Homo sapiens: one gene and its partners. The protein of the gene in region 1 purifies or fractionates together with the protein of each later gene. This does not show direct contact. Each region holds a gene or a part of one and is shown in the gene's direction. Other genes may lie near its edges.

The links.
Region 2: the proteins of HMG20A (region 1) and PHF14 purify together in Homo sapiens (affinity purification with mass spectrometry; 4 studies listed by BioGRID and IntAct, with this or other methods). This does not show direct contact.
Region 3: the proteins of HMG20A (region 1) and GSE1 purify together in Homo sapiens (affinity purification with mass spectrometry; 3 studies listed by BioGRID and IntAct, with this or other methods). This does not show direct contact.
Region 4: the proteins of HMG20A (region 1) and PAWR purify together in Homo sapiens (affinity purification with mass spectrometry; 3 studies listed by BioGRID and IntAct, with this or other methods). This does not show direct contact.

Annotation. Positions count from the first base shown.
Region 1 is NC_000015.10:77,415,715-77,424,594, forward strand, and holds the start of HMG20A (high mobility group protein 20A), read left to right. Parts: upstream 1-5,173; 5' UTR 5,174-5,290; intron 5,291-8,880. UniProt on the Homo sapiens protein: Plays a role in neuronal differentiation as chromatin-associated protein. Acts as inhibitor of HMG20B. Overcomes the repressive effects of the neuronal silencer REST and induces the activation of neuronal-specific genes.
Region 2 is NC_000007.14:11,164,864-11,170,925, forward strand, and holds the end of PHF14 (PHD finger protein 14), read left to right. Parts: intron 1-4,552; coding exon 4,553-4,627; 3' UTR 4,628-4,755; downstream 4,756-6,062. UniProt on the Homo sapiens protein: Histone-binding protein. Binds preferentially to unmodified histone H3 but can also bind to a lesser extent to histone H3 trimethylated at 'Lys-9' (H3K9me3) as well as to histone H3 monomethylated at 'Lys-27' (H3K27ac) and trimethylated at 'Lys-27' (H3K27me3).
Region 3 is NC_000016.10:85,658,322-85,665,321, forward strand, and holds part of GSE1 (genetic suppressor element 1), read left to right. Parts: intron 1-1,056; exon of another isoform or gene 1,057-1,354; intron 1,355-2,824; coding exon 2,825-3,444; intron 3,445-4,659; coding exon 4,660-4,772; intron 4,773-5,022; coding exon 5,023-5,293; intron 5,294-6,693; coding exon 6,694-6,807; intron 6,808-7,000.
Region 4 is NC_000012.12:79,679,910-79,688,724, reverse strand, and holds part of PAWR (PRKC apoptosis WT1 regulator protein), read left to right. Parts: intron 1-8,815. UniProt on the Homo sapiens protein: Pro-apoptotic protein capable of selectively inducing apoptosis in cancer cells, sensitizing the cells to diverse apoptotic stimuli and causing regression of tumors in animal models.

The DNA of each region.
Region 1 (8,880 bases):
ACTGGAAAAGTGAGACTACCTTCTACTTAAGACCAACTTCTCTGCCTACGCCCTGGATCCCATTCCTTATTACCTTCAAATCCTTGTCTCCATCCACCAGCCAGTCTCCCACGCCCACCAAACACACACATATACACTCTTCTTCAGTTTCTCCTCTCCAGTGGCTCTTTCCAGGCTCACATTAAGAATGTCCAAGATTCTCTAAATCCCAAGTATCTCCCCCTGCTTAAAGACTCCTTCAGAGTCCTTTGTTGAAAACATTGTACCCCTCTCAATTAGCTACACTTACAGTTGTCATTCACTTTTCAACACCCACCCCCATGCATTACAATGTAGCTAAGTGCTCTAGCTGAAGTTATAAAAGACATCCTAATCACCAAGTCTCAGAGACTTCATTAGGTCTTTATCTTACTTTTCCTTTTGGAGGCAGGATACAGTGTTGACCACTCCTAGCCCTTGAAATAATATTCTCCCTCAGCTTCCATGACAAATCTCTATTTCCTTTTTTCATCTTTGGTCTGTCTGGCACAGATGGTTGGCTTCTCTTCAGCTGCTTGCCCAATCTACTCAGCGGATCACAACAGAAATGTAGGAATCATCCAAAATCTTCAATCTTGCTCAATTCTATAATCTAAATAGATTTATCCTGTCCCGTTAATAATACTTCCTAAATCTCTCATAGAGCCACTCCCTCTTCTACACTCTTCATCATTTCTCACCAGGAATAGCTTCCTAACTGGTCCTTGCTTCCAGTTTTGTCCCTCTCTAATTCAATATTCACTTCACTGTCAAAATGACAGGTCTAAAATACAAATCTGATTCTACCACAGCATAATTTTTTTTCCCCACTAAATCCCCGCAACTTTTGGAATTAAGTTAAAGTTATTAACTTGGTTCACAAGACAATCATTGATTTGGCTTATTACTTCATCCACCCCTGTTCTAAAGCTGTGCTGCTGCTGTCCACTCACCTGCAGCTATTGAGTATGTGAATGTAGTTGTCCAAATTGAGATGTGCTATAAGTGTAAATTACACACCAGATTCTGAAAACAGTAGAAAATTATGCACCAGATTCTGAAGACAGTATGAAAATGGAAATGTCATATTTCAATATTACTTTTTATACTGAATGCATGTTGAAATGATATTTTGGATATACTGAGTTTATATTATTAAAATTAATTTCACTTTTTACTTTTTAAAATTTGGTTACTAGAAAATTTTAAATTGTATATGTAACATATTTGTGGCTTGTATTAAATTTTATAGGACAGCACTGGTATAAGATGTACTTTCCCTCTTTCTGGACCTAGTTAACTCTTACCTATTATTGAAGATTAGCTCAGGTAACACTCTAAGATGCATTCTAGACACCCTCCACCCATCCCCCGAAGTCTGAGTCAGCTACCCCTCCTCTGTGCTTCCATCCATAGGAATGTGTGCATGCCCCTGTCATACTATAATTATTGGTTATCACCTATCTTCTCCTCCTCAACTGTAAACTCCTTGCAAAAAGGAATCTCATATTCTATAATACTCAGGTCCTACCTACCACCATGCCTGGCACTTAAAAGGTACTCAAACATTTGTCAAACAAATGTAAACTATCTATTCCTGGCCTGAAGGTTACTAGGATTTCTACTTCACTAAGGAAAACAAACCAGCCTTGAGGGAACCTAGAAAGTACCAGGAGCTTTAGTAATGAAAGGACTAGGAAGGAGAGTGGGGTGGGGGGATGCGGGGCGGGGGGGGAGGGGGGCAAGAGGTAGGAATCACAGTAAAGAGATCAGCAAATGACAGAATAACGCTCATCACACACATCTGCCTCTTACACTGAAAACAGGGATTTGCAACACTGATATGGAGCCTTGTACTCACACTTGGCATGCCAGGGGCCACAGTTTGGTTACTAAATTACTTAAACAACCCATCCAACAAAAGGGTATGATTTGGCAGGTATCAACACAAATGGCTAGGGCCCAGCACCCGTTCCACTTAAACAGCACATCAGTACAGTTAAAAAGAACAACAAATCTCTCTCATGAAGCAAATGCTAATCTCATGATGCTTCACCACGGAACAATTTAGAAGAGTTATTATATGAAATGTGCCAAAGCATGAATTTATAGCTGATGCTTATTTGGCAAATATGGTTGGCACTGCTAGATGTTGAAAAACATGTATGCAAATAAGCAAATAAAAGTTTTTAAGCTCTCAGACTTAAATATTTACATTACCATAAATGTACAAAGATAAATGTTTATATGAGTACACGTATAATGCATTCCAGGAACATATTTTTTAATGTGATTGTCGGCAAACAGTTATGAAGTGGCATTATTTCTTCATGGGCCTTCAGGGTAGACTCTTAAAAATGAATTTTGAATGTTAATAGGCTACAAACATTATTGTGAAAGTTTCTGTATACTATCAACTGGATAAAACGAATAGTTGAGGTATCATAATAGTTCAAAGTGATCTTATCTTTTTCTTTCACCAAAACACTTCTCTTCCAACCCTAGAACACAGCCACACATAAATTTTAGCCTCTAAGTTGGGACAGGAGATGGGGGGTAGTGAGGGAAAAGAAGGAACATACATTAAAAAGCCTTAAAGAAAATAATTTGACATTTTTTCCCACATAATGTAGTCATGTTAGAGAATCCAAAATAAAGACATGATAAAATATTTCCCTTTCCCCCCCGACAGCAATGAAAAGGGGATGTTTGTTTTTTCACATAGTTTGTGAGTTGGTCATATCCAAAATTCACTAGCAATGCTATGACTTCTACTTCCATTGTTCATCTCTGGGCTGAGGCTATAACCCTCAACTTTGAAGCCAAGAAAATGTACCATATCTGCCATTACAGTTTACTAAATAAGTCACCAAAGAGAAGTCCCAGGCAAGTCAGAAAGTAATTAGGGTCGTCAGTGAATTGAGCTATCTAGAAATGCTCTGAGATTACGAGAGAAGCCATCATGAAGTGAGTATCCAAGATTGCTCATGGAAAGTTTTACCCCGGTGGATAATTCACGTTTTTCACTTCCACACTGCAGAGAGCAATATGGGTTCTCTGACTATACACATCACTACATCACTTCATTTATCGGGGGAAAAAAAAAGACGCTGTGGCTGAACAAAAATCAGTAAGTAGGCCCCAAAACAGAATCCTCAAGGCAATCCCAATTCAGGTGAAAAGCTGTTCACGTACATCATCCAATGACCTAAAAATAGTCTTTTATGTAAGTCTCTAAGTATTTAATTCAACGTATGATCTTACCACATTCAACAGAGGCAGAAAAAAAATCAATTAGGTTTTCTATAGCAAGGCCAATAAAGATGAAATCATAGTTTTCCTCTAACTCATCACTACCCCCTCAACGTCAGCCTTCCAATAACTCCATTCCACAGCTCTCAAATTCCTGAACTTGGATCTTTAAAAAACAACGAATCGCAAAAAGTAACATTTAACAGGCCAGAGGCAGGCGGGGGAGGAGGGTCTCTCCCGGTGCTCTCAGCAATCTTTAACGTAGCCAAAGGAGGAAAAAACGAAATCAAGCTCCCAGACGGATGGTGCATGCGACGAGAGGGGAGGGGGCAGACGCGGTTCAGACGGCAAGTCCCCATCGAAGGAGGAAAGAAAAGTTGCAAGAACGGATGGGTCAAAGGGCAGAAAAGAAAAAAACTGAGCAGCCGAACCACTCACAACCCCCAAACGACCCCGCCAGCCCACACGTTCGCGGGCTCCCCAGCCGCGGCGCGAAGGGAGCAGGCAGGGAGCCACCCGGCTCCGTCCCGACGCTGCCGGCGAGGCTGCGCCGATGCTCCCGGGTGCGGGAGCGGGCTGACCGTGTGGACCCGGCAGGAGCCAGAGAAGCCCCTCCTGCCCCGGCCTCCCCGCGTCCAGCTCCTCCAGGCTTCACTTTCCCCCGCAACCTCCCAGCCGCGCCCGGGGGCGTCCCTCGCGGCAGGTCCCAACTTTCCTTCCTCTGGGGGGCGTCGCGCTCCCGGGGCCGCCGCCGAGGGAGGGGGCAGGGGCGGCAGGGGGCGCGCGGCACCGGCGGGGCGCGGGGGTGGCCGGGGAGCTAGAGCCCGCGCCGGGCGGGACGCACCGGCCGCCAGAGCCCCGGCGGCGGCGCCACCCAGAACCCGCGCCGCCACCCAGAACCCGCGCCGCCCCGCCCGGATTCCCCCGGGTCAGCGCCCTCAACCCGCGGCAACCCTGGTCCCACAGACGGCGCGTGAGTAGAAGACAACCGAGCGGACGCGGACAGCCGGGCCGCTGTTACCTGAGGGGCGCACACGCCGCCGCGGCGACCACCATCACCGTCCGTCCCGTCCCCTTCCTGGTGACCACGGCCGCCGCCGCCGAGCAACTGACACTGACTAACAACAACTAACTAACTACTCGCCGCGGCCGAGTCCACCGCGCGCTCCCGGCCGCTCGCCGCCCGCCCAGCCCACCAGCCTGCCCGCCTCCTCTCGGCCCCGCGCGCCGCCCCTCCGCGCGCGCCCTCGCCCGCTCGCCGCGCTCCTGGAGCCGTGAGCACGCGCGCGCTCACGGGCCCCGGTCGTCTCCCAGGTCTCCCTCAGCCCCAGCGGGAGGAGTCACCGCCAGGCCCCTCCTCTCTGCCTTCCAACCTCCAGAGGACGAGACCTAAAGGGTGCCTGATTGGCTGCGGAGGGCGGGGCTAAGACAAGGGGCGGGGCTGCCGAGACCTTGGGCCCGCGTGAGGGAAAATTTGGGTTCGATTAAGCCGCAGAGGAAAAGACCAGGGGAGTCTGGGCCCATTTGGGCGTCGGGGCCCGCTAGGTCAGCCGTCATCGAATACAGAATATGTTTTCGAGGACGCTAATATGTAGTCATGACCAATTTCAGTTCTTCTACTTTCTGCGGGCCTTCGCAATAAAAAAAAAAAAACTACATCTCCCAGAAACCTCCACGAAAATAAGGCTCACCTTGCGTAACCACGTAGTCCTTCGCCGCATTGGGGCAAAATAATCCCTTCATTTTTGTGAAGGTACCGTGGAAAATATTTCATTTTTCTTCTCACCGGAGCAATTGTAAATGCTATGCGGTAAGAGGAGTTACCTGTGGAAAGGTGGTTAAGAGATTAGGTAAAGAAAAGGAAAGGACACCAAAATAAAGTGCTGCGGAAGAATTTTTGTCCAGCTGTGAGACGACGAGTGCGTGAAGTGAAGGCGATTGAGAGGGGCTGAGGGAATTGTCCTCTGTGGAAGGGACTTTCTTTTGGCCCTAGGCCCCTTCCTGCCCCTGTCGTCAGCAGGTCAGTAAGCAAGGCGAGCTTGGGGGTGGCCCCAGTCGAGATGCCCTTCACCCCTTGAAGATCACCCCTCTTTTGGTGGTGGTGGTACTGGTTTGTCTCAGTTGGAGGCCGGCTGAATGGGGGCGCCTCAACTTCCGGTTGGGGGAGGGGAGGAAGGCCGTCCTGGGGAGGGGGGACACCCTCACTTCCTGTGGGGGGGTGGTGATGGTTTGGGGGTGTCCGACCCACTTCCAGTGCTGATGAGGGCTTGAAAAGGTGGTGCTTGGTGCCATTCGCGGAGACATTATCTTGCAGCTTGGGGATTGTGTTTTATGTGAAAAGTTAGATTATTCCAAGTTGTGCTGAACACCAACCTGCAGTCAGAATTTATGAGTTTGCTTCCACGTGGAATATGGAGCATTTCCTCCCCAGCAAAATTGTCTGTGTTTTCTTCAAAGAATTCGAAAGCCCTTGTTAAAAATCTCTATGCACCTTTGCAAGACGACATAGCTTGTGTGACTGATGAATTGCCAACACCTGCACCCCTACTCAAGTCCAGCCTTGGCTGGGTGAAGTGTGGTGCCCTCTGCCTTGACATGCAACAGGAAATCTAGCTTCTCTTTTAAGGAGATAACTTTTTATTTAGGGGACTGAATATTTTACATAAAATCTGGGGCATTTTCATCTTAGCAGAATGAAAGTATCACACTGAAGTACTCAAATTTGAGGTTACCTTAACTGATAAAATTGACATCTTAAATTATTAGGACTGTTGATTTTGGGCTACAGGTTTTGCCCTGTGCCTGAGAACAGCTTCTTCAGCCTTAAAAATTCTTATGTGTAGCTTACACGTAACATTTTTGAAAGTTGTATTTTATTACATTTTCCTCCTTTGTAATTTAATTCATCACTGATTTTTAAATGGTATCTGTTCTTTGTGGTTTTAAAGTATAAAGCAAGGGTCATGAGACTCAGCTCAGATTCTAAACAGGAAAAAGTTGGCTCACAAAGGACAAAAGGTCAATAAGAACTTTCTGGTTTTCAGTAGCTCATTTTTAATAAACTATATGTGAGGCGGTAATAAACACTCAATAATTTTGATTCCTTGGTTCTGTTGTCAGATAACACAATACTTAGAAGGGTGTGTGTCTGTGTATTGAAGGAATCAATCTATTTGAAGCTTACTTTGTGAAATCTGAATGTTAGTAATTTTAGTATATATATCAGTGAACCTAGAACTGTATTGTCTTGCAAGAATTTTTGAAGTAATAAGGCCTGTGTACTTTTTCTTTTGGGATTGTACTTAATCTAGCCTCAGACTCTGCGATTATTTTAATTCTATAATAGTTTTTTTAAAAAGCTGTTTGGTCACGCCTGTAATCACAGCACTTTGGGAGGCCTAGGCGGGCAGATCACGAGGTCAGGAGTTCGAGACCAGCCTGGCCAGCATGGTGAAACCCCGTCTCTACTAAAAATACAAAAATTAGCTGGGCGTGGTGGCGTGCGCCTGTAGTCCCAGCTACTCAGGAGGCTGAGGCAGGAGAATTGCTTGAACCCGGGAGGCGGAGGTTGCAGTGAGCCAAGATCGCTCCACTGCACTCCAGCCTGGGCGACAGTGAGACTCCGTCTCAAAAATAGATAAATAAATAAATAGCTGTTTGGGTTAGGGTTCATTAGAAAATATGTTTTAAACCAAATATTACAGTAAAAAAAAATACATGTTTTAATCTTCTGTGGTCACTTTTAAAAAAGAATCTAAGACCCTAAAATCAAGTATGATTTATATTTTGAAAGACCACACGATTGCTGCAGTAGTTGACTGAAAAAGCAAGACAAAACATTGTCTTTGTGGTTATTAATAGGTTAGGAACATGTAGACTGCCCGAAGTAAGAATTAATTGATTAAAGAAGAAGTGTTCACTATCTTCTATATTAATGTAATATAGAAGAAAATATAATATGGTCACCCTGACAAATGAAACTGTAGTGTTAGGAATTATTGAAGTATGGAAAGATTGTAGAACTAAATGAAAAAAATAGAGAATATCATGTTAAAATACTGATTGAGATAGAGTAATATTGCCTTTTGGAAACTGTCTTTATTAAATTGGTCTTTATGGTACTCCATGGAAGAAATACAGTATAATAGAAATAAGAAAAATTGTTGCAGCTGAAAGACTTGAGCAGCTTGAAGAACTATCTGTTTAGAAGAAAGCAATATATAAAATACCTATCTGAAAGAAGGTATTTTGTGATAAGTGGCAGTTATTCATTGGTTCCATCAAAGAAGAAATATTAGAAAAGCTTGTGAAAAATAGAGAGAGAAGGTCCATAGAACCTGTTTTTATTCTTTTTAAAAATGTTTCTTTAGAGAGGCTTGCTGTCCTCCAAAGGTTTTTTTTTCTTAATGCCCTTTGTGCAGTTTTCTTTGCATGTTTAATAGAAATATAGTATCAAAATTTAAAGAATTAATATTTTTGTACATGTACTGTTACTTCAAGTTAATGAATTTGAGATTTCATTCCATTACTTGCCATATATGTAACAAAGAAAGTGTCAAATCTTTTTTTCAAATACTTGGATTAGATAACCATTTTCTTTTCCAAAGACAGTCATTGGATACACTGCTCACAGCAGTTTGAAATATTAAAACCGTAGGTCACAATTCTGGATTCCATCTGACTGAAATTAGATTATCCACAGAGATGTTATACATAATACAGAAGTGTCTTTTCATTCTTTCATCTACTTTACTTTGTAAAATCAGGCTAATGTTTTGCAACTGTTGCTTTCCTTGTTTGTCGTTTTGGTGGTGGTTTGTTTTTGTTGTTGTTTTTGCCGTAGGGTTGAGGATTAAAGAAAGTATCTTAAGAACCTGAATGGTTTTTCACCTTACTGCTTTGCTGTCTCTATTTCATAGCCTTCACAGGTATTCAAATGAGAATACCCTTTACGTGACTTTTCATTATTTAAGCAAAAGTTTAGAGTGTCTACTATATGCCAGTCACTGTTCTCAGGACTTTGAATACAGTAAATACGGCCAAATATTCATATTCTACTGTAGTTTACTCTCTAATTTACAAATTAAAACTAGAATTTTGCTCCCTTGGTATTCCTAAATAAGATCTATGTTATGATCGTTGTTCAGACTGGGTAAAGAAGCAGCCCTAAACTTGATCTCTCCTGGTCTTAATCTCTAAGCCATTCTAAACCCAGATTTGAATGTTTCAGCCTAATTTTTCTCCAGACCATAGAAGCCCCTGTGTTAAATATGCAGTCCCTTTCATTGATACATGTATCATTTTCCTACCATTCTAGCTTCTTTTGTATTGTGAAAACAAATGAGAGTGAACAGTGGGGAAAATATGGGATCAGATAGGCCCAAATTCAGCACTGGTCTCTGCATTTTACTGGCTGAGCTTACTAGCTTGGTAACCATGAGCAATTTATTTGACCTCCCTAAGCCTCAGTTTTCCTAAATCCAAATGGGGTTGTTTGGTGGAATCAGAATGTTGTATGTAAATCTCCTGGTCCAATGCCTGGTGCCAGAAGCTTCATTAATGCAATTATCTTACCCCCAATCTTGCTTCTGCTACTCTGGCTATTGTGAT
Region 2 (6,062 bases), on another chromosome or scaffold:
CATCATGTCCCCATAGTCTCCTGTGGTCTGTGATAGTTCCAAGTCTTGTCATTCATAACCTTGACATTCTTTTTTTTTTGAGACGGAGTCTCGCTCAATTGCCCAGGCTGCAGTGCAGTGGCGCGATCTCCGCTCACTGCAGCCTCCACCTCCTGGGTTCAAGCGATTCTCCTGCCTCAGCCTCCCGAGTAGCTGGGACTATAGGCGCCCGCCACCACACCCAGCGAATAATTGTATTTTTAGTAGAGACGGGGTTTCACCATGTTGGCCAGGATAGTCTCGGTCTCTTGACCTTGTGATCCGCCTGCCTCGGCCTCCCAAAGTGCTGGGATTACAGGCGTGAGCCACTGTAGCCGGCCGACCTTGACATTTTGAAGACTACTGTTTAATTATATTGTAGAGGGTTTATCTGATGTTTTCTCAGATTAGAATTAGGTTATACCCTGTTGGGAAGGATACCACAAACCAGAGGTGATGTGCCGTTTTTAATACATCGTATCAGGGTGTTAATATATATTATTGGTGATATTAACCTTGACCATTTGGTTAAGGTGTTGTTTGCCATGTTTCTCCATTATAAAGGTACTTACATCAACATCTATAAAGATATAAAGAATAGGGAGAGTTGCCTCTTTGTGTAATCCTTTTATATAAAGGATTACAAGAGTTTAAGAAATCTTTTAAACTTGGCAGTCTACAAGGTAAACAAAGTTATCTGTACTCATAGAGTGTAATTTGTATCCAGGTATTACCTGAGTGATATAAATTCCAGATGCTAAAATAGTTGGCCATTGTTAGGAGTTGGTTACGTCCTAAGAGGAAGGAAAAGAATGGATAGGTTTTATTAATTGGCATCAATTATTTGAACTATCATGAGAACTAAATCACATTTATAAATAAAGAAAAACCGAGGGTCTCCTCTATCACAAATTGATAGTGCAAGCTGACTAACATTTAAGCAAAATCTTGCAAGTTTTATTTAGTGATAAGATAAACATGGCAGTGTGTTTACTTAATTTCTCTGTTAGAATAACTCAGTCTCATATTGCCACCTGGAGTATCAGCCCATTATTAAATGGTCCATCTGTGCCTAGAAATTACCATTCTCACTACAATTCTGTCCGTGTAAAAAGAGCAAGGCTAAGGAACCAAATTTTGTCATTTGATATTACAGGTGTTACTGTTAATTGAGTGCACATTCTTGAAATTTCACATATAACTAGCAGATCTGCAAAGTTGTTATAGTCAGTGTATTTTTTTAGAGTATGAATTAACAAGTTTAAACATTAAGAGGTAAGCCTGTCTACTTTCCAGTAGCCTCAAAGGATACATTTTCTTTACGATTGTTTCAGAACACTTCATGAAACAAATGTCAAACTTGTCAGGGCTGTCACTAAGAAAATGATCCATGTAGCCAGGGTCTTCTTTCATTGGGAAACAAACAGATGTCTTATCTCAGCAGAGAGAAAAAAAAAAACCCTCCTGTATATCAGAAGAAATTTTTGCTTACCTATAATATCCAGTAGTAAAGAAATGCTTTGGTAAAAAGCTTCCTTTGCAATTTTATTTATTATGCAGTCATTTATCAATTATATTTTATTTGCTGTCTGAGTTACTTTAATGATTTTTATTAATCTGGAACTGCGTATAAATTCTTACAAAAATTGACCTGCAATGTGAAAAACATAAATTAGCATTTCCAAAAAGACTTCCCTAGAGCTTTATTAGATCAAATTTTAATGTTATTTATGATAAAATCTATTACTGTTATTTTGATAATGTTATAGCAATTTTAATATTATACTCTAGCAATTAGAGTGGAATGCCTTTTTCACCCCTTCATAATGCTTTTCTGCACCTAGGTTACAGCTATCCTTCTAAAAGGAAGAAAGAGATTGGCTCTTATTTGTTATATAAGTGACTTAACAGCATAAAAGGCAAGATGTTTTAAGACAAATCCTCAGCACAAAGAAAGGTGTGAAACAGTTATGTACCTGTCCTGAACAGCAGGCAGTGTTAGAAGGCATGCATTTATAAACTGTACTTTATTTCTAAGAAAAATTCAACAACAAAAAGACAAACATTATATTAAGAATGTTACTTAACTGGCATATCTATATATATCTTATCCATATATTTAAAACATATTCAAATTAATGGAAGTTGCAAATTTTTATTTCATTTAACCATGTTCCAATAGCTTATATCCATAGTTAAATATGAAAATAAAGTATATAAGTACCTCCTAGTCCTTGGGGTTATTAAGTCTTTACATTTGTGTTTTGACTTAGAGCAGCAAGGTTGCTAGAGAAAACTAGATAGCCAAGCATGTTAAACCGGGAAGTCATACGGTGGAGAAACTTAGTAGACTGTCCGTGTGATAAAGGCTCCATCTTTCTTTTATAAATTAAAGGGTATGAGCTTGATAATGGCTGTTTTGGCTCATGTTGCTTCAAACATTTTTGCTTATTTTTATTTTCACTGTTGTTATATAGTAAGTTAAGATTGCTAGAAGTGTGAGTACTAGCAATCTTAATTTACGATAGTTAAGAACAATATTGTGCTTTTCCAAATTATGTATTAATTCAGGCATACCTTTTATTCGTTCATTATTCCACTGTTTCACATAGTTCAGAAAATATTGATTGGACTACAACTATATACTAAGTATGTCCTGTTAGATGGTAGGAATGTATAAGATACAGAAGATAAAACCTTCCTTTGAGGAACAGATGGACAAATTCAGTGCTACATATCAAAAATTTCTTGCCATCCGTACCTGCTGATTTAACACTTTCTAACAGTGTCTCTCCTGAAGAAGACAGGGGAAAGTGTAGAGTAAGATTTACTTTTTATTATAATGTAGTTAAAATGTAATCTCTAGGCTGGGCGCAGTGGCTCACGCCTGTAATCCCGGCACTTTGGGAGGCTGAGGCGGGGCAGATCACGAGGTCAGGAGATCGAGACCATCCTGGCTAACACGGTGAAACCCCGTCTCTACTAAAAATACAAAAAATTAGCCGGGCGTGGTGGTGGGTGCCTGTCCCAGCTACTCGGGAGGCTGAGGCAGGAGAATGGCGTGAACCTGGGAGGCGGAGCTTGCAGTGAGCAGAGATCGCGCCACTGCACTCCAGCCTGGGCGAAAGAGTCCGTCTCAAAAAAAAAAAAAAAGAAATGTCATCTGTAGGAACTTTTTTCTAAAAGTGGAAAACACATGTTCATTAATAAATTTTCAAGAATCAAACTTAATGTATCTATTCACTGGAGATAAAATAAGGAAAAAATGAAATGACAAACAGTGGCTATCATACTTGGAAAAATATATCAAAGTTACATTGCCAAAATGATATTCAAAACCCCATTCCTGGTGTTCTACATATCTATAATGATTCAGATTGGTTGATAATATTGATAATTTCTCTACTTTCCCAGTGTTAACAAAGTCTAAATCACAGATTCCGTTGAGTTTAGAGAAACAAAGTATATAAAAAAGCTTTTTTCACCCGCCTTAATCATTACTGGCAAGTATGTAGTTTGTCATAGAAAACAAATATGCATACCTTGGTTTGCTTTTACTTTATAAAGTCAATTCACAAAGTAGAGTTCAACAATTATTTAATTCAATGATTTAATTTGGTTTCATCAGATACAGAGATAGAGTGGTATGTTTGATGATATTGATGATTATTACTGTTGTCTAGAAATACTTAAATTGATGTTTATGCTTTAATTAACTCAGAAGAGTACCTTTATGTCAGTTAATAAAAATAAATAATCTTAAATGATAAATCAGAAATATTAGGAAAGCAAGACTGTTTTGTACTTGGGTGTGTTGAAAGAACATGTATGATGAGATGGGTTACAAATTGTAAGATGAAATATTTTTCCAGACTCTCATTGCTTATACTTTGAAGGTTACCATTTAATACTGAACACAAGATGCACTTCATTTCTATGAAAGCAGACATTATGATGTCATTTCATCTATTCACCATGTTCCACAGGAACCTGCTATGAATTATGAGGCCACCACTTAGAATTGAAACTGTAGAAGATTGTAAGCATTCTAAGCCGACATGCACATGCTTCCTATTTTAGACCTCACTGATCTTCAGATAACATATGGTGGTACAAGTAATTGGAAAATTGGCACACCTGTCAAGAAAGTATACTAGATGGGGCAAAAAAATGCCATGCTGGAGCACATGAAGTGTCTTAGCAATTAAATTTATTGTTTTTTGTCAAGCAGTGAAGTAAAAATATCTAGCTCATCCCCTGCAAAGAACACTTTTCAGTGGCAGGTGTTTCCAAAGTAATTTTTAGGGCATTGTTAAAATTGGTTGCTTTTAAAAACATACAGAAAATTTTAATGTGTTCTATAAAACAGCACCTATTGCAAATATTTAAATGTTACATAATTTTACCATTTGTGTTTAGGATTATTAGAATCACAGTAGTTCATAGTTCTACAGATGCAGTTAAAATCTGTCAAGTATAGCTGATAAATGCTCTAAAGTTTATATTTTAATGTTTTCTAAAATTTATTTCACAGGAAGATGAAAATGAAGCTGAAAGAAAAAATATATCTCAGGAGCTCAACATGGAACAGAAAAATCCAAAGAAATAAAAGATTTTCTGTAGTGTTTTTGAAAAGTTTGCAGCTTATGTAATAGCAGATAAAATTTCTAATTGTAAAATGTTAAATTGTAAAATCTAATTTGCAAAATGTTCTCAATAAAGTCATTCAAAATGAAATAGGAGCTTGTATTTGGAATTCGTATATTTTAGAGTAATTTCGACTTTTTTATTCAAAAGCTGGACCTTTAAAAGTTTTTAAAAGGAGAAAAATTCTTAACTCAAATTTGAGAACAGAGACAGAATGTTATTTTTTTTGTAACCTAACTGTTAACACATTTAAATGACCTAAAAAAAAAACCTCTGAAAGTCTTTTTTCTTCTTACTAGACTCTGTGTTCTTCTTTAAGGGCCTTAACATAATTTTGATTATCAATATAAAGAAAAACCAACATAGTTCAAAAATGAACAGGGAATGCTTGCACATGAAAATGGTTAAAACCAGTCAATGCCACAAGGAGAAATACTGTTTCCTGATTTCATCTATTTATATATTACACGATACTCTAGGACTGCAGGGAAAGACTAAAAAGAAATGATAATTTGACGGTCTCTGGCAGAAGTAATGCCATGATTTATAATTTATAAAACATTTACTAAGGACCTGCTGTGTGCAAGGTCCCACACACTATTCCTGGACATTTCAAGAATAGTTCTTTTATGTATTTCTTTGGCTTAGAAATTTTTCAAAATTCACCTGTCCCCTGTCTTTATCAGAGTTCTCAGTAACCAGCCTCTTTACTCTCCCCGGTTCTAATTTCCAAGCTGCCATTTGCCAATGACAGGAAGAGCAATGAATCTGCTTGCTATTTGCAGAGCCAAGTGTTTTTGGCAGATGTCTTTGTTTGATTATTTAAGGCAGAGTTTCTTAAAATGAGAGGCAGAGCTTTGGGAGGCTTGCAAGAGAATGTGAGAGTGGAATCAGTGTATTTGCCTTGAAGCCATATTATATGCATTCAACAAGCCCAATAAATGTGTGACAGCAGGATACGCTGGCAGCTATGATACATTGGGCTGAGATGGAGGAAACTGCAAGTAGTTAAGACAGAAAAATCAAAAGGATAGTCTCAAATAATCTCAGTACGCATGTCAGGAAAACAACTAGAGCCCACAGATGGGATCCCTGGACTAATGAATTCCCTGGATGAATTTTGGAGCAAAGACTTTAAGCCAAAGAAAAGGTTGAGATGGCAGTTCAGAGTCTGCAGGGAGCCTTTGCAATAGGCAAATATAAAAATTAATTTGACACTTTTCCCACATCAATTTATTTCAAAATACCCACATTCACATAGATTTGGGTCATATCAGTAGTTTTACTTTTAAAAAGAAGAAATAATACATGATTCACATAAAAGCTAACATGTTACAGGTACTATGCTAAATGTTTAACGTGTCATGCCACTTAATTATCAACTTACAGGTTAGGTA
Region 3 (7,000 bases), on another chromosome or scaffold:
TTCCATAGCTCTGCTCCAGGCCCAGCTCAGGGACCTAGGGACACTGATTCTGTTCCCTGAGCCTCACTTTCCTCAACTGTCCACAAAGGAGGGTGGGTAGGATGATTTCTGAGCATCTTTCCAGCTCTCAAGGCTGTGATGCTGTCCTGGGATAAGAAACCCTTGGGCTCTGGGACGGAAGCGTGTTGGTGGTTTAAAATCTGTCCTCCCTTCTGCCTGCCTCCGTTATCCAGTAGGGCAGCGAGGGAATGCGCCCCCGCTGATCAGGGATGACTGGGAGTGACTGTCACCAGGCCACAGCTAAGTCTCCCTGTGGCTCACACTGCCCGGCACGGCCGAAGTGAGATCCCTTCTGCCTCTCCCAGCCCCCGTCCCTGAGGCCTCTCAGGCTCAGCCTTGCCTACTACCCAGAGGACTGAGGGCAGCCAGCTCCTACCTGGCATGGCCTGATAACATCAGGGTGCCCTGACTCCTGTAGGCATCTTCTTCCTCAGGGCTCCCCAGGGCCCCAGCACAGGTGTTGTGACTTTGCCCACCCATGGACTGCTTCCAGCCAGTGTAGCTGCCCCATCCGGACCTGGGGCATGATGGGAAGCAGGGCCTGGCCTCCCCTGGCTGCGGTGGTTCCCCTGTGGCCGGCTGCACACGTGGCCTTACAGCATTGTGAACTTGGGGGCCTGACAGGGCCCTCATGCTCCAAGCTAGAAAACTGTTCAGTGCTTGGTGTGGCGCATGAAATATTTATTCTCCTGCAGGTTTCATTCCCTTGCTGTTTACTTAAGGACACAGCTTCTTCCTGTGGTTCCCTGTTGTATTCTGCTAAGAGGGACAGCAGCGTCGGATTTGTCCCTTGGCCTGGAGTCTGGAATAACTAGGGAGAGCCTTGGTGGCTGTGTTTAAACAGGGCTCCCGGGGCAGGCTAGAGATCCCTGAGCCCGGCCGTGTGCCTGCTGTGGCCTCTGCCTCTTTCTTCCCCTCAAGCTTTGCCCAGGGTCTCTGCACAGTATTGGTCCAGACATCCTGTGAGTATATCTCCCTTTAAAAAAAAGAAAGATAGCCAGGCACAGTGACACATGCCTGTAGGCCCAACTACTCTGGAGGCTGAGATGGGATGATCGCTTGAGCCCGGGAGTTCTCGGCTGTAGTGTACTATACCCACTAGGTGTCCCAGCTAAGTCCAGCACAAATATGGTGACCTCCTGGGAGCGGGGGACCACCAGGTTGCCTAAGGAGGGGTGAACCAGGGCAGGTCGGAAATGGAGCATGTCAAAACTCCCGCGCTGATCAGTAGTGGGATTGCTCCTGTAAATAGCCACTGCACTCCAGCCTGGGTAACACAGCGAGACCCATCTCTTAAAAATAAGCTGGAAAAACAATACTAAAAATAGCCCTGTGAGTAGATTAAATCTTGTTTTAATTGCACTGAGGAAACAAGCCATTTAGTGTAACTAAGGGGCAGCTTCTTGTTTAATGGAAGGGTTCTGATGTTAGAAATCCCTTCTTTCCCTCCCTGCCTCAGCAGGCCTTAGCCTGGGTCCTTGAAGACACTTTGAGGCCTCTGCCACAGGCCACTTGGGCAGTGGGGTCGCTGCAGTTGTGACAGGGGCCACTGGGGGGCAGTCTCGGCACAGGCCCCATCCTGACTGGGAGGATCTTCATTTCACAGTGGGTTTGGCTCTGGCTGGGCAGACACTGGAAGGTTGTCTTGTGGCTGCCTGCGGGGACAGTGGGGAGGGAGGAGTACTGCCCTGTGAAGGTGGCCAGCCTGCCCTGTGTCATGTGTCCCTACAAGGCACAGCAGGAGGAGAGGGTGCTGGTGGCAGGGCCACAGCCCAGTATATAGAGTGGGTTTCCCCATGGAAAGTGCGGATGAGCGCTTGCCCTTAGGGGAATTCACGCAAGCAGGTGGGAAAATCGACCGAAACTGGATCTGTCCCAGGCCTGAGAGGGTCTCTGCCTTCCCTAGCAGCTTAGGCTGGGAGCCTCCCTATCCTCTTGGAGCAGCCTGCACACACCTGCCGCAGGTGTTGGAGGGCCGGGCACAGTGGCTCACTCCTGTAATCCCAGCACTTCGGGAGGCCAAGGCAGGTGGATCACTTGAGGTCAGGAATTCGAGAGCAGTCTGGCCAACTTGGTGAAACCCTATCTCTACTAAATAGGAAAAATTAGTAGCTGGGCATGGTGGCACACGCCTGTAATCCCAGCTACTCGGGAGGCTGAAGCTGGAGAAGCGCTTGAACCTGGTAGGCGGAGGTTGCAGTGAGCTGAGCTTGCCCCACTGCACTCCTGCCTGGGTGACAGAGTGAGTCTTTTTTTTTGTTTTTTTTGAGACGGAGTCTTGCTCTGTCGCCTAGGCTGGAGTGCAATGGCACGGTCTCAGCTCACTGCAACGTCTGCCTCCTGGGTTCAAGCAGTTCTCCTGCCTCAGCCTCTGGAGTAGCTGGGATTACAGGCACCCGCCACCATGCCTGGCTAATTTTTGTATTTTTTAGTAGAGATGGGGTTTCACCATGTTGGCCAGGCTGGTCTCAAACTGCTGACCTTGTGATCCACCCTCCTCGGCCTCCCAAAGTGCTGGGATTACAGGGATGAGCCACTGCGCCCGGCCGAGTCTTTAAAGAAAAGAAAGGAAAAGAGAAAATGAAAGACAGAAACAATGATCCTTGGGGTGGAGTGTGTGTCCCCTCCCTGCAGCCCTGTTGGCACTGGCTCTCTAAGGGGCTGCGCCATCTGTGTCATCTTAGGAGCGGCAGGCAGCCAGGGAAGCCTGTGGATGACTGAAGGGTCTTTTCTCCCTGACTGAAGGGTTGGTTTCACTCCCTAGGCCAGGACCAAACCGTCACGAGCCAGGTGGCCGTGACCCTCCGCAGCACTTTGGGGGGCCACCACCTCTGATTTCGCCCAAGCCCCAGCTCCATGCTGCACCCACGGCCCTCTGGAACCCCGTGTCCCTGATGGACAACACCTTGGAGACGCGGCGGGCCGAAAGCCACTCTCTGCACAGCCACCCGGCTGCATTTGAGCCCAGCCGCCAGGCAGCCGTGCCGCTGGTGAAGGTGGAGCGGGTCTTCTGCCCGGAGAAAGCAGAGGAGGGGCCACGGAAGCGTGAGCCTGCCCCTCTGGACAAGTACCAGCCACCTCCGCCGCCACCACGAGAGGGAGGGAGCCTGGAGCACCAGCCCTTCCTGCCCGGGCCCGGGCCCTTCCTGGCTGAGCTCGAGAAGTCCACCCAGACCATCCTGGGCCAGCAGCGGGCCTCCCTCCCACAGGCGGCCACCTTCGGGGAGCTCAGCGGACCCCTGAAGCCTGGCTCGCCCTACCGGCCCCCAGTGCCACGGGCCCCCGACCCTGCCTACATCTATGATGAGTTCCTGCAGCAGCGCCGGAGGCTGGTCAGCAAGCTGGACCTGGAGGAGCGCAGGCGGCGGGAGGCCCAGGAGAAAGGTCTGCCTCCCCGCGGGCCCCGAGCTGCTCAGGGAGAGCCGCACAGTGGGGATGGGGAGCCTGCATGCCAGCCACCTGCCCCTCTCCGTCCACTCCTGCTTTTTGCCTGGGGTAGTCCCAGGCCCCAGGTGGCAAGTGCACTGGCTTCTTTGTAGCAGCATGACACCCTCGTAGGGGAGGCAGACCCTAGTCCCCGTGCCTGTCCTGCCTCGATGCAAATTGTCCCAAAAAGCCAAATCAAAGCCCGCCTGTGAAGATAGTTCCGCAGACAAGCATGATGAATAAGTGATGAGCGGAGGCTAATAAGATAGTTTTAAATATTAATAGTGCAGCATAACAGGAGAGCCGGCCTGGGCTCAGCGGGGGCTCCACATACAGGGCCGCTGCCACGAGCTGCAGCAGGTGGGTCAGGGGTTGAGGACGCGGCGGCTGGCACTGCCCCGGGTCAGGGTAGGAGGTCAGGCACTTCATTCTTATTTCTGCTTGGGGGTGGGGCGTCCTCAGCCAGCGGCTCCCTGAGTTCTCCAGAGAGCCAGGAAGAGCAACCGAGCAGGCGAGAGTGTGCAGAGGGGAGCAGGGGCTCCAGCCCAGTTTTCTTCCTGATGCTGAACACTCAGGTCCTGTCCAGTGCTGAGCTCAGCCTCCTCTTCAATAGAAGCTGGGGCACAGGCGGTCTTCCTGGTTGTTGGTCTAGGCTGGATGGAGGGCCCAGCCAAATTTCTCTCCCCTACTCACTTTGTAAAGGAGGAGGGAGATACCCCAGCGCCCCTGGGCAGGGGCTCTGCTATTGTTCTCTGTGTCTTAGAGAGCTCAGGCCTGTGTGTGCCTGTCTCCTCCCAGGAGATGGACTCAGATGGCCACAGCATGGGGGAGTGCATGTGCACAAGCAGCCCTGTGTTGCCGTGGACACAGCCCCAGGCCTGTGTGATGAATGGTTCCCTGCCAGGGGGAGGAGGGAGGTCTTGTCAGCCCAGGGGACCACCCAGCTACTGGGAGCCATGGATCCCAGGGAAGCCTGGTGTCTGCGGTCCTGCAAAGCCCCAGGACTGGGTTAATGTTGGTTTCCACCTCGGTTGAAAGGAACTGGCCTTCAGGGTGTTCAGGTGCCAGCAGGCCTGGCCTGATAGGTGCTCTGCACACATGAGGCCCTGCGGGCATGTCCACTGGACAGATGAAGGCTCTTTGTCTGGCTGAATACAACCATTTCTCCATCAGGGTACTACTACGACCTCGATGACTCTTACGACGAGAGCGATGAGGAGGAGGTCAGGGCCCACCTCCGTTGCGTGGCCGAGCAGCCGCCCCTCAAACTGGACACGTCCTCTGAGGTACTGGGCTCTCCTCCCCACGGACATGCTCTGGGCTGGGCTCTCGTTCCTAGCGTCCACACCCTGCAGTCCACCCCACTGTTGCTAGGTTCCTCCGAAGTCCTGGCGGGTTCGCCCCATGAAGCTCTTCTCCCACCAGGCGCAGCCAGCTACGGCCCACACTTCGAGGACCCCAGGAGGGGACCCCGGGACAGTGCAAGCATACCACTGCCAGTGGCTTCAAACTCATTTGTTTTCTTTCCCAATCTAGAAGCTAGAGTTTTTGCAACTTTTTGGCTTGACCACCCAACAGCAGAAGGAGGAATTGGTGGCCCAGAAGCGGAGGAAGCGGCGGAGGATGCTGCGAGAGAGAAGCCCGTCGCCCCCAACAATTCAGAGCAAGCGGCAGACGCCTTCACCGAGACTGGCGCTGTCTACCCGCTACAGCCCTGATGAGATGAACAACAGTCCCAACTTCGAAGAAAAGAAGAAGTTCCTGACCATCTTCAACCTGACCCACATCAGCGCTGAGAAGAGGAAAGGTAGGGCCTCGCCTGGGTAGGAAGGTGGGGGCTCACTGGGGTGGAAGTGGGTTTCTGAAGCAGCAGGTGGGGCCGGTGGACTCCAGGCAGGATCTGCGATCACTGAGCCTGAGGCTGCCCCTTTACTCCTCCCGGCTCCCGGGAACAGCCTCTCTGTTCTTACAAGCCCTCCATAGCAGCCTTACCTGACAGGCTTTGCTCTGAGAGCCCCACCATCTTGACCTGAGGACTACCCATGTCACTCATCCATCTCCCAGCGCCCGAGAAGGCGCTCTTTGAGCCGAGTGCTCCAGTGACCACCAGGCGTGAGGGGAGGTGCCAGGTGTTCCAGGTTTGTCTGCTGCAGGCTTTTCCTCTTGCTGGACCGCTTAGGTGGTCTGCTGGGTGTTGTGTCCTGGTGGCCGGAGGCCTGGGGAAGGGCTGCCAAGCAGGGCAGCACACACTGAGCAGATGGCTTGCCTTGAAAGATGCTTCCAGTTCAGTCTGGCCACACAGGGCCACATTGGGACAGACCCTCTGGGCTCGAATCCATATAGCAGAAGAAACAACGCAGCCACAACACCTGCTCAGGGTTTTGGCTTCCTTGGCCTGCAGCGCAGGCTGGCTTGGTGCCCAGATGTTGACGTTCCTGGCCCTGCCCCTTACGCACGCTTTCAAGTCCTCGTGGGCCCCTGGCCTCCTCTCTGGGAGAAAGTCGAAGGAAAGCAGAGTTACTTCTTGGACCTTGAGCAGCTTCAAGGTGTTGATCAGGGTGTAGCCGTTTACTTTCTCCTTTTAACCAGTCAGTAGTTTTCCCTTTCTCTTAGCGGGCTAGTGACGTGTTGATTGCCAGCCCAGTTCCCTAGATACAAAGCATCTTTTTCCCTGAATTTTTGGAGGAAAAAAAATTAAGGGCGATGCAGCCCTTGAGTTTCACAGTCAAGAAGGGCCGGGTGACATCAGGGATCTGCTGCGTGGAACATCGTGGGGTCATCTTTCCCCTTCAGGAAGTGGCAGTAATGGTAGGAGTGGGGGAGAAGGCACCCTGCCTCAGAGGCCAGGCCTGGGTCTTTGGGGTGTTTCTTTGTGTTGGGGCCACCTTGTCTGACTTGAAATAAGAATACATCCTCGCACGTCACCACCGAGGTCCGTGGGCACAGTGATTCACAGAGGCGTCGTCACCGCACGGACAGCTGTCTTTGGAGCACGTCTAGGACATTGTGTAGTGGATGCCGAGAGCAATCTGGGCTCGCTTTGAGATGGTTGCTTCCTTTCAACTGGGCCTGCCCCATCACACCTGCTTTTGGTTTTTCGGGCTTTAGTGCTTTGCCTGCCCCTCAAGGCTCGGCTAGAATCCCGCTGTCCTTCTCTCCAAAAAATGATGCAACTGGCTCGTTAATCTCAGGCTGCTTTTCTCATAGACAAAGAGAGACTTGTTGAAATGCTCCGTGCCATGAAGCAGAAGGCACTGTCAGCAGCAGTGGCCGACTCCTTGACAAACTCTCCGAGGGACAGTCCTGCCGTCTCCCTGAGTGGTAAGGGAAGGATAGCCCCACCTGCCACCACCCAGGACCATCCCATGGGCTGCCCAGGCTCAGAGGCGACCACTCGAGGTCTTCATCATTGTGAATGTGGCCTCCTGCAGGCTGTCTTCTTCCATTCTTGTACCAGCGTACGATTCTTGCACAGTTGTGACAGTCATTGGGACGGAACGTCAGTTTGAAGGCG
Region 4 (8,815 bases), on another chromosome or scaffold:
AGAAGCATTTGCAATAAGTTAGGGTGTATATTAAATATACCTAAATTTTTAGTATTATGATTTCCATACCTGTTAAATCATAGTGTGTCTTTGTAGGACGTATTTATATGAGCGTTTCAGAGATTTTTATCAGCCAGCAAAACTGTCCTCTGCGGTTTGCTACTTGCACAAAAGATCTGTTATTCATTAAATTGCTTTAGAAGGAATTCGTAAGAGTGGTAATCAAATTTCTAGGTGTTTTTTTTTTTTTTTTTTTTAGTTAAAAATATGAAGATTAAGGGGAAATTGAAGACAAGGCTTTGGAAAAGCTACATTCCTCAACTTGATTTTTAAAAGTAGCTGATGATCCAAATAAAAGAATTTGTCATTTTCAATCTTTTCCTCATTGTTCATCTGACAGCGGTCTTATTTTGGGAAATATCTTGGCAGATGTTAAACTTCACTTTTTTTCTGGCTGCATGTGCTAAAATTATTTTTCAAGTACTTTTTTTTTTTTTAAACAAGGGTAATGTTTACTGGGGGAAGTAAGTAGAGTGTATCTTGTGAGATCCTAAGAAACATCTTTTGTTAATACCCCTGCTTTGAGTAAGAGAACATAGTGCTGAGAATGTAGATGACTTCCCACTACAATGGAGTCTAATACTCTGGAATGTTTTTCGTTTGGGTGTTGGCAACTCCTAAATTTAATCTTCCCTGAAAACAAACAAACCAAGGGTACCTTTTTTTTTGTCTGTAGAGTTTGAACCTTTTTATTGAATAGGGAATTGAGGACTGCTTTCTTTTAGTGGTAACTATGTCTCTGTCCGTTTCAAGCTGCAGGACCCAACAAAACAGTAATGCTTCACTACAGTATCTAATTAACAGACATACTTCTTGAGCGCCTCCTCCTCATATTTTCTTATTTTTCAAAACAACTTATGTATTTCAGATTATTTTAATAGTGGTAAAATATATGATGCAAAACTTTAAAGCTGAGCCATTTTCATGTGTTTATATTGTTGCTTTTTTAGAATTGTGCCATTTCTCCTGGTAGTTTCAACATTGAGAATACCAGTTGCTGTGGAGTTTCTTGTGTAATATTTAATTTAGCACCCCTGTTTTAAAAAGTCATACATATTTTGCAAATTTTTCGGGTATGAAAATAAGTAAAAAGATGAAAATGACCAATCTCTTTATATTCAAAAGTAGACTTTATTTTATCTAATGTCGAGTAAGACTCTTATTTTCAGACATGATTCCCAACCAAGTCTGTATTAGTAGATTAACATGTAGTTCATATGTAGAGATCTGGTTTTAATGGTGGATAAACATTAAGTTCCTTCAAGGAAGTACTTATGAAACATCTGTGTGATACATTTATTGTGACTTTCATTACCTCACTTTACTAGTTATAGAGTGTATATATAATACTGTTATAAAGGTATCTGACAGCAGCTAAAGATACCAGAATTGACTAGAAGATAGTTATAGGCAAGGAACCAGGTCAAAAACCGAAACTAGCTATTTGGGAGGTAGGAAACTGGGTGGTTACTGCATGTGATGGCTGAAGTCGATCTATCCAGAGCTTCTTTAATGAGATAAAATTTACTAAGAGTTTTAAGAAAAATATCCTTTTTTCTAAATTTTTACATTTTCTATTTTTTGGTAGTAATTCACCTGAACTGGGTAATTTGGACGTGGCATACTTCTTGCCAGTAATTTTTGTGTGTGTTTATCAGATCAGTCAAATGTGTATTACATACCTGTTAAAGACACTATCCTTAAGCAGTGGAGAAAATAAGAACACGGCAGTGTATATTCTCAAGGAGCAAGGCTATAATCTAGGAAGAAGGATAAGGCATAATTACATGAAAAAATTTAAGTACTGAGTTAACAGTTTAAAAGCCATCTTAATGAAGCATGTAACTATTTATTGGAAATAGTGTGTGTTTAAAAGGGGGAGATGATTGGGCTGGGAGAAGCTATTGAGGATGAGAATCTTGACCTGAGTCTTAAACTTTTCAGTACTTGTATATTTTTACATATGTTCTCACATATGTACATGTATACATAATTGTTTGTATAGTATATTAAGTACCGACATGCAGTGGTTCTTAACTTGAGCAGCACATTGATAGCATGTTAGGATCTTTAAAAAAATGTTTGCTCATGCTAATTCAATTCCGTGCCCTCTTTGTCCCTTCACCCCACCCTGTAATATTGAATGGGTCTGGGATGGATCCCAGGCATTAATATTTTTATAAGTTCCCCATTTGATTCAAATGTGAGTCAGTGATAACAACTGTTGGACTGCAGTCTGGGTATAGAAATGAATAGGACATAAGCCTTGCCCACGAGGTGCTCTCAGGTAATATAAGGAAATGTGAAAAGTAGAGTAGTAAGTATAGCTTAGTGCCTGAGCAGGGTACCTAACCCAGGGAGGAGGAGTGATAGTTGAAGAAAGCTTCCTAGACAGTTACATACTTGTTTCCAGGGGGTTTGTGAAGTTACTGCCATTGAGTAGGGTTGTGTGAATGGGTTAATGGAGATGGGTGCCATAGAAAATGTAATCTTTGAATAGGTAGAGGTGGCACTGAAGTTTTGGTTTAAGTATAAAAGTTAACATATACAGTATTTAAAACTTCTGTTTTAAAATAGTGGTTGGCTAAAGTGGTTTAGCTTTAGTGGTTGGCTAAAGTGCTTTATGTACTGAAGTTCACAGCAATCTCATGTGGTAGTTACACTGTTTATCACTATTTCCAGAGGAGAAAATGAAGACTTAGAGCTTAAATGATTCAAGATCACATAGAAAGTAACTGATAGAGCAATATTTTAAACATTTTTGTGTATTTTGTGTGTATGTATATATCTAGGGAAAGGGGAGTTTTTAAAAATTAACCTACTTTTCATTATTCAGCATATTTCCCTAGATTTTTACATAACTTTTTATTAAAGATTATCTTAAGTAATTTAAACATCTGAATGAGGAAAACAGTAAAGGTATGGAATTGAATAGAATTTCAGGTCAAATTTGTGGACTCAGAGATTGCCTCTGACCCTCTAACCTATAGAGTGGCAAAATTTTGAACACCAGGCTCTCGGCAAAACGTAAATTTATTTTTGGCTAGTGGTCAGAAAATGTGAATCTTTGATTTTACCTAAGTGATATATTGTTTTTCTATCAAGATGGGGTCATGACACCTACTCCATAGTTTGAACTCGTGTTGGTGAAAGGGAAGATAAAGGAGCATTTAACATATAGAAAGCACTTTTAAGTGAACACAGGTTAGGTCATAATTATTTAGTATGTTTATTGAACATTATATATAGGACAAGTTCCACTTAGTAAACTTTATAAATCCAGGTGGATTAAGAAATGCCTTTTGTTATTCCCATTATGCTCCAGACTGTCTACCTTTCTGTGTGATGAGTCAGGAGAGAAACTAATAATGACTCAGAGTTGGAGAAAATTTGATTCGTGAATGGGGTAGATATAGTGTAAACACTGAGACTGTTTAGTGTAAAACCTGGGCTATTAGCCCAGCTTTCCTAAATGTTTGAGCTCACTGGTAAAGTAAATTGAAATTTTAATATTATCAGGATTTGTACTGAGTTGTCTGAGCTGGGATGTCATTTCTCATAAAAATAATAATTACATAATTAAAGTAGATGACATTTATGGTGTGCTTATTAAGTGCCAGGCACTGTTCTAAGCACTTGACATACATTAGTGCATTTAATTCTCACCACAGCCCTATGGGAAAATGGGGAAGAGAAGGTATGTTACTTGCTTCAGGTCATACATGTAGTGAGAAGTAGATTAGAGATAGTTTGCACTCACAGTCTTGTGCGTAATAAACCATCTTACTACACTTCAGTGTATTACATACTGTATACCTAGTTTAAGAAATACAAAGAATATTTTAGTGTTAAATTGTTAGTATATGACTATGGAATTTAAAAATAGCCCTATTTATAGAACATAGATGAAGTGAGACTTTAATGGAAAATTTTGAGAACAAATGAATATATAAACACTGGCATTAAAATTCTTATTTAAAATCATTATCAAGCTAGTGGCCTGTTTATACTATTTTCTTTGTTTTTTTCTTTCTTTCTTTTTTTTTTGAGGTGGAGTCTTGCTCTGTTGCCCAGGCTGGAGTACAGTGGCATGTGGTGTGATCTCAGCTCACTGCAGCCTCCACCTCCCGGGTTCAAGCAATTCTCCTGCGTCAGTCTCCCAAGTAGCTGGGACTGCAGGTGTGCACCACCATGCCTGGCTAATTTTTGTATTTTTAGTAGAGATGGTGTTTCGCCATGTTGGCCAGGCTGCTCTCAAACTTCCAGCCTCAAGTGATCTACCCGCCTCAGCCTCCCAAAGTGCTTGGATTACAGGTGGGAGCTACCGTACCAAGCCTATCTATGCTATTTATTATTTCTGCATTTTTTTTTTAGCACCTATGATGTGTGCCAGAAAATAATTATGCCATTTAATAGCAAGGTTGATATAATGTTTTATAAGTATAAAATTATTGGCAAATATTAGGGTTTGACATTTTCTCTGTGCTTTTTTTCCTTTTTTAAAAATTGAGATATAATTCACATACAATAAAATTTACCCTTTTAAAGTGTACAGTTCAGTGGTTTTTTAGTATTCACACGGTGTGCTCTTAAGTGCTTTTATATTTTCATCTTTATTTTTCATTATGTTCTTAGAACCTCTGGTCCCTAAATTTTAGCTTTCCTTTCAGTAAAGTGATATGGTATTCAAATTATGAGAAGCCATTAACTTAAAATAATTTAATATCAGCCTTTCCCACTTTACAGAGAAAATGAAATTATGGTAGGATCTCCTCAATTTTAAGTTTCTTAAAACTTGGGCACCTACTACCATTTGTTTGCAGTGGAGTTTAGTATAATAGGTATTTATTAGGTTTGTGCAAAAGTAATCACAGTTTTTGCCATTGAAAGTAATGGCACCAGCCTAATAGTTGGATTACTTTTGCAAAAACCTAACAATTTAACTGAGTGTAATACTTTCACCTTAATAAAACTTTTACATATCTTTCATGGAGATCTGCAAAGCTCTGTCATCTAAACATTTGGGAACATTGATTCAGAGTTAAAAAAAAAAAAAAAAGGAGTTTCCACTGCTTACCACTTTAGTTACAGTACTAGAATCAGTGTCCTAAAAGATGTTTCTGGGGGGACCATCTCTACCAGTATCACTTTTGCCATTTATTTAAAATCAGATTTCTGGAATCCACCCCAGTCTGGGTTAGGGATGTTATCTGAGAGTCTGCATTTTAACTTGAGTGATTTTGGTACACACTAAAGTTTGGGAAGAACTAACTTAAATACCCTGTACTAGTTTACTGATCCGTCAAATGAAATGAATGCTGGTTATCTAACAGGATTGTTACATGAATTAAATAAAATGATGTTTGTGAAAATGTTATAAAAATGCCCAAATCAGAAATTGTAGTTACTGTATAGGTTAATTTCCTATGAGGTTGTTAAACATTTTCATTTTTTTCTTCCAATTTAAAACTGTGCATATTTTAACAGACAGGTTGAGCTACTTGGAAATTCAAAGTACTTTAAACATTTATGTAATGTCACATACTTAGTGCAAAATGCTCTGTCTGCTTTGCCTCTTTTCCAGAATTTAGACAAGTCTAGACTACAGAAACACCTCAAATAGTTAATGCGTAATTAGAACTTTACTTTCACTCATTTTTAATTTTTACATATCTTTAAGTGAAAGCATATACTTGTGTTTATAAATGTATTTGATAATTAGCAACTCAAACTTTTAAAGCATTGTGTTTGCCATCTTATCAAACTACTATCAAGTGCAAACATTTTTCCCATTGATTACAAATCTTACATGTTAGACCTATAGGCATCCTTGACTGGCAATTGATTTTGAACATATTTGGTTAACTGCTGAGTCAACTTTCTGTTTAGATCTTAGGCAAATGTGTTATAGCCATATACCTACATGTATAGAATTGAGCCTCAGCCACCTGTTACATTCTCCTTAGGCTATGTAAAAATACACAGGGCACCATGGCTGAACGACATTGTAGGAATATTTAAATTCTAAAAGCAGCAAAATCACACACTTCAAAGGTAAAAAGAGCTCCAGCAAGTTCAAATCTTAGCATGTCAGTTGACTAGTAAAATGTTTATTCTGTGATAGTTTTTGGAGATTTTGTCCAGCAAAATTTTGTGGGTCACAGTGTATTTTTCAATGATAGTCTCATTTATTTTAAGTAGTTGAAGAAATAGGGCAGTTGTATTCTGAAAATTAATATTTTGTTAGGTTTTGCTGAAGTGAACAGATAGGAGAGAATTTATATTGTGGATTACAATTCTGTGGCAGCTGAAACTTTGTTTTCAGGCTCTTCATAATAAATTCTGTGGGGCCAGGTGCCATAGCTCACACCTCTAATGCTACCACTTTGAGAAGCTAAGGTGGGAGAATCAATTGAGCCCAGGAGGTCGAGCCTGCAGTGAGCCGTGACTGCTCAACTGCACTACAGCCTGGGTGACAAAGTGAGACCCTGGCTCAGAAAAACTCAAACAAAACAAAACTCTAGGGGGACTAAGAGAATAGGATAAATAAACATAATAATATACAGTTTGAAATACAGAACTGAAACAGATGAAATTAACTTAAAAAGACATCTTTCAGACTAAGCTTATCTATGGTCATGTAAGCAAACTACTTAATATTTTAGAATTTGCAGGTTACATAAAGTATCAATTGATTTTCTATTATTTTGGAGTTTTTTCCAGAATATTTTTAGTAGTATTTAAAAAGAATGTAAATCTCAGAACAGAGTTAACATTCAGAAGATGGTGCTTGAGGAATAGGAATAAAAAGTACGATTGTATTAGCTGAAATAATCAAAGAAGTTACTTTTAGGTTTCAAATTCTTGAAAGACTTCTCCATATCCTATAATGTAAGCAAAAGTTGATGCAAATCAAATTTATGTAATCCTAATTTTTTTCTGCTAGTAGAAGTAATGTGTTAAAAAAAAGGCAGTGTGTTCACTGTAGTTCTCTCATGGAAATAAATCCAAGGAAAGGTAGAAAAACCTGTTATCTTATACATATTAATATTTGTGTTTCTATTCTTATTTTTTTGAATCTACTTGAGAAATGGAACCACACTATTGATTTGTGTGTATACTTAACCACTCATCATGAGTATTTTTATGATGTTATTCTATAACTTCAAAAATAGGGGTGGATGTGTATGTATCTTTTGTTGTATGTTTTTTAGAGACAGGGATCTTGCTTGTTCCCCAGGCTGCAGTACTATGGTGTGATGACTCAGCCTCAAACTCCTGGGCTCAAGTGATCCTCTTGCCTCAGCCTACCAAGCAGCTGAGAGTACAGGCATGAGCCACCATGTCCAGTTGGATGCATGTGTTTTGTGCTGTTTGATATTAAAATACTTAACCATTACTTCATTGGGAAAGGACCTTACTGCTTATCTGCCTTATTATGTGGCTTTTTGATTAGCCCATAAATAGTCTTAGATAAATAGCCCTTTCCTTTCCTTTCCTCCCCTCCCCTCCCCTCCCCACCCCTCCCCTCCCCTCCCTTCTTCTCCTTTTTTCTGAGACAGGATCTCTGTCACCCAGGCTCAGTGCAGTGGCACGATCATGGCTCACTGCAGACTCAACCTCCTGAGTTCAAGAGATCCTCCCACGTGAGCCTCCTGAGTAGCTGGGACTGCAGGCTTGCACCACCACATTGGGCTAATTTTTTAATTTGTTTGTAGAGATGGGGTCTCAGTATGTTGCTGGTCTTGAACTCCTACACGCAAATGCTTCTCTCACCTTGGCCTCTCAAAGTGTTGTTGGGATTACAGGTGTGAGCCACTCCACCTGGTCTATTTTTTTCTTTTCATATATTGTGTTTCCTGAAACATTGCTCAGGAAAAGTGTTTGTGCCATTGAAAGAGTCTCATAGGTTCAGATAATTGTGAAGGATGACCAGAGGTTTTTTCTTTTTTTAAACCTCTATAACCTTTGATTTCACTGGGAAGTTGGTGGTTGGAGCTGGAGTAATTATAAATGTATGTATGCTGTAGCTGAAATAAGTTCCTGAAACTCATCATGGTATGCAAAATTGTGCAGTAAAAACTGTAGGGCATATGTGAAAATGGAGTTTGGGGCATAACACTCAAAAACTTTGTCAATGGCATTTAAAAAGATAGAAACCTAATAAAAACTAGCAGTTTCACACATGTTAAATGCTTAATAAGTACATAAATACTACAACAAATATGACACTTTACTTTGAAAAATACCTAAACTTTTTGAAAAGTGTTAGAAGGATCCCAGCTTGTGAATTACTGTAAAATGGTAGGAGGAAGGTTATCTGAAATTGGAGTGAGAGTGTTACACCAGATGTGGATGGGTGTAGCTCATAACGTATGCAGTGAACTGACGTAACTGGCAGATGTTTGAGGTGTGTATGCATATATTTCTACGTGACTGGGTTGCAGTTATCTGTGCCTGCTGAGCATTTCTTGCATTTGAACATAAGCAAACACAAAATTAGTGTTATTCTCAACTTGTTCCCTAACATGTGTTCATATCAGTGGCATTGGGACAAATCCATGTTTTTCTAAACAAATGTTATAGTGCGTATATGTCTACCCATGCATAGATATCTGTATCCCCATCAATCTGTCTAAAATATGTAAAACGTTGTAAAAACATAGAAAACAATGGCTTGGGAAGATCAATCCAAGTAATGACATAGAGGAAAGGTATAGGAAGCAGAGAAATGGGAGTACTCATATAAGAGTAT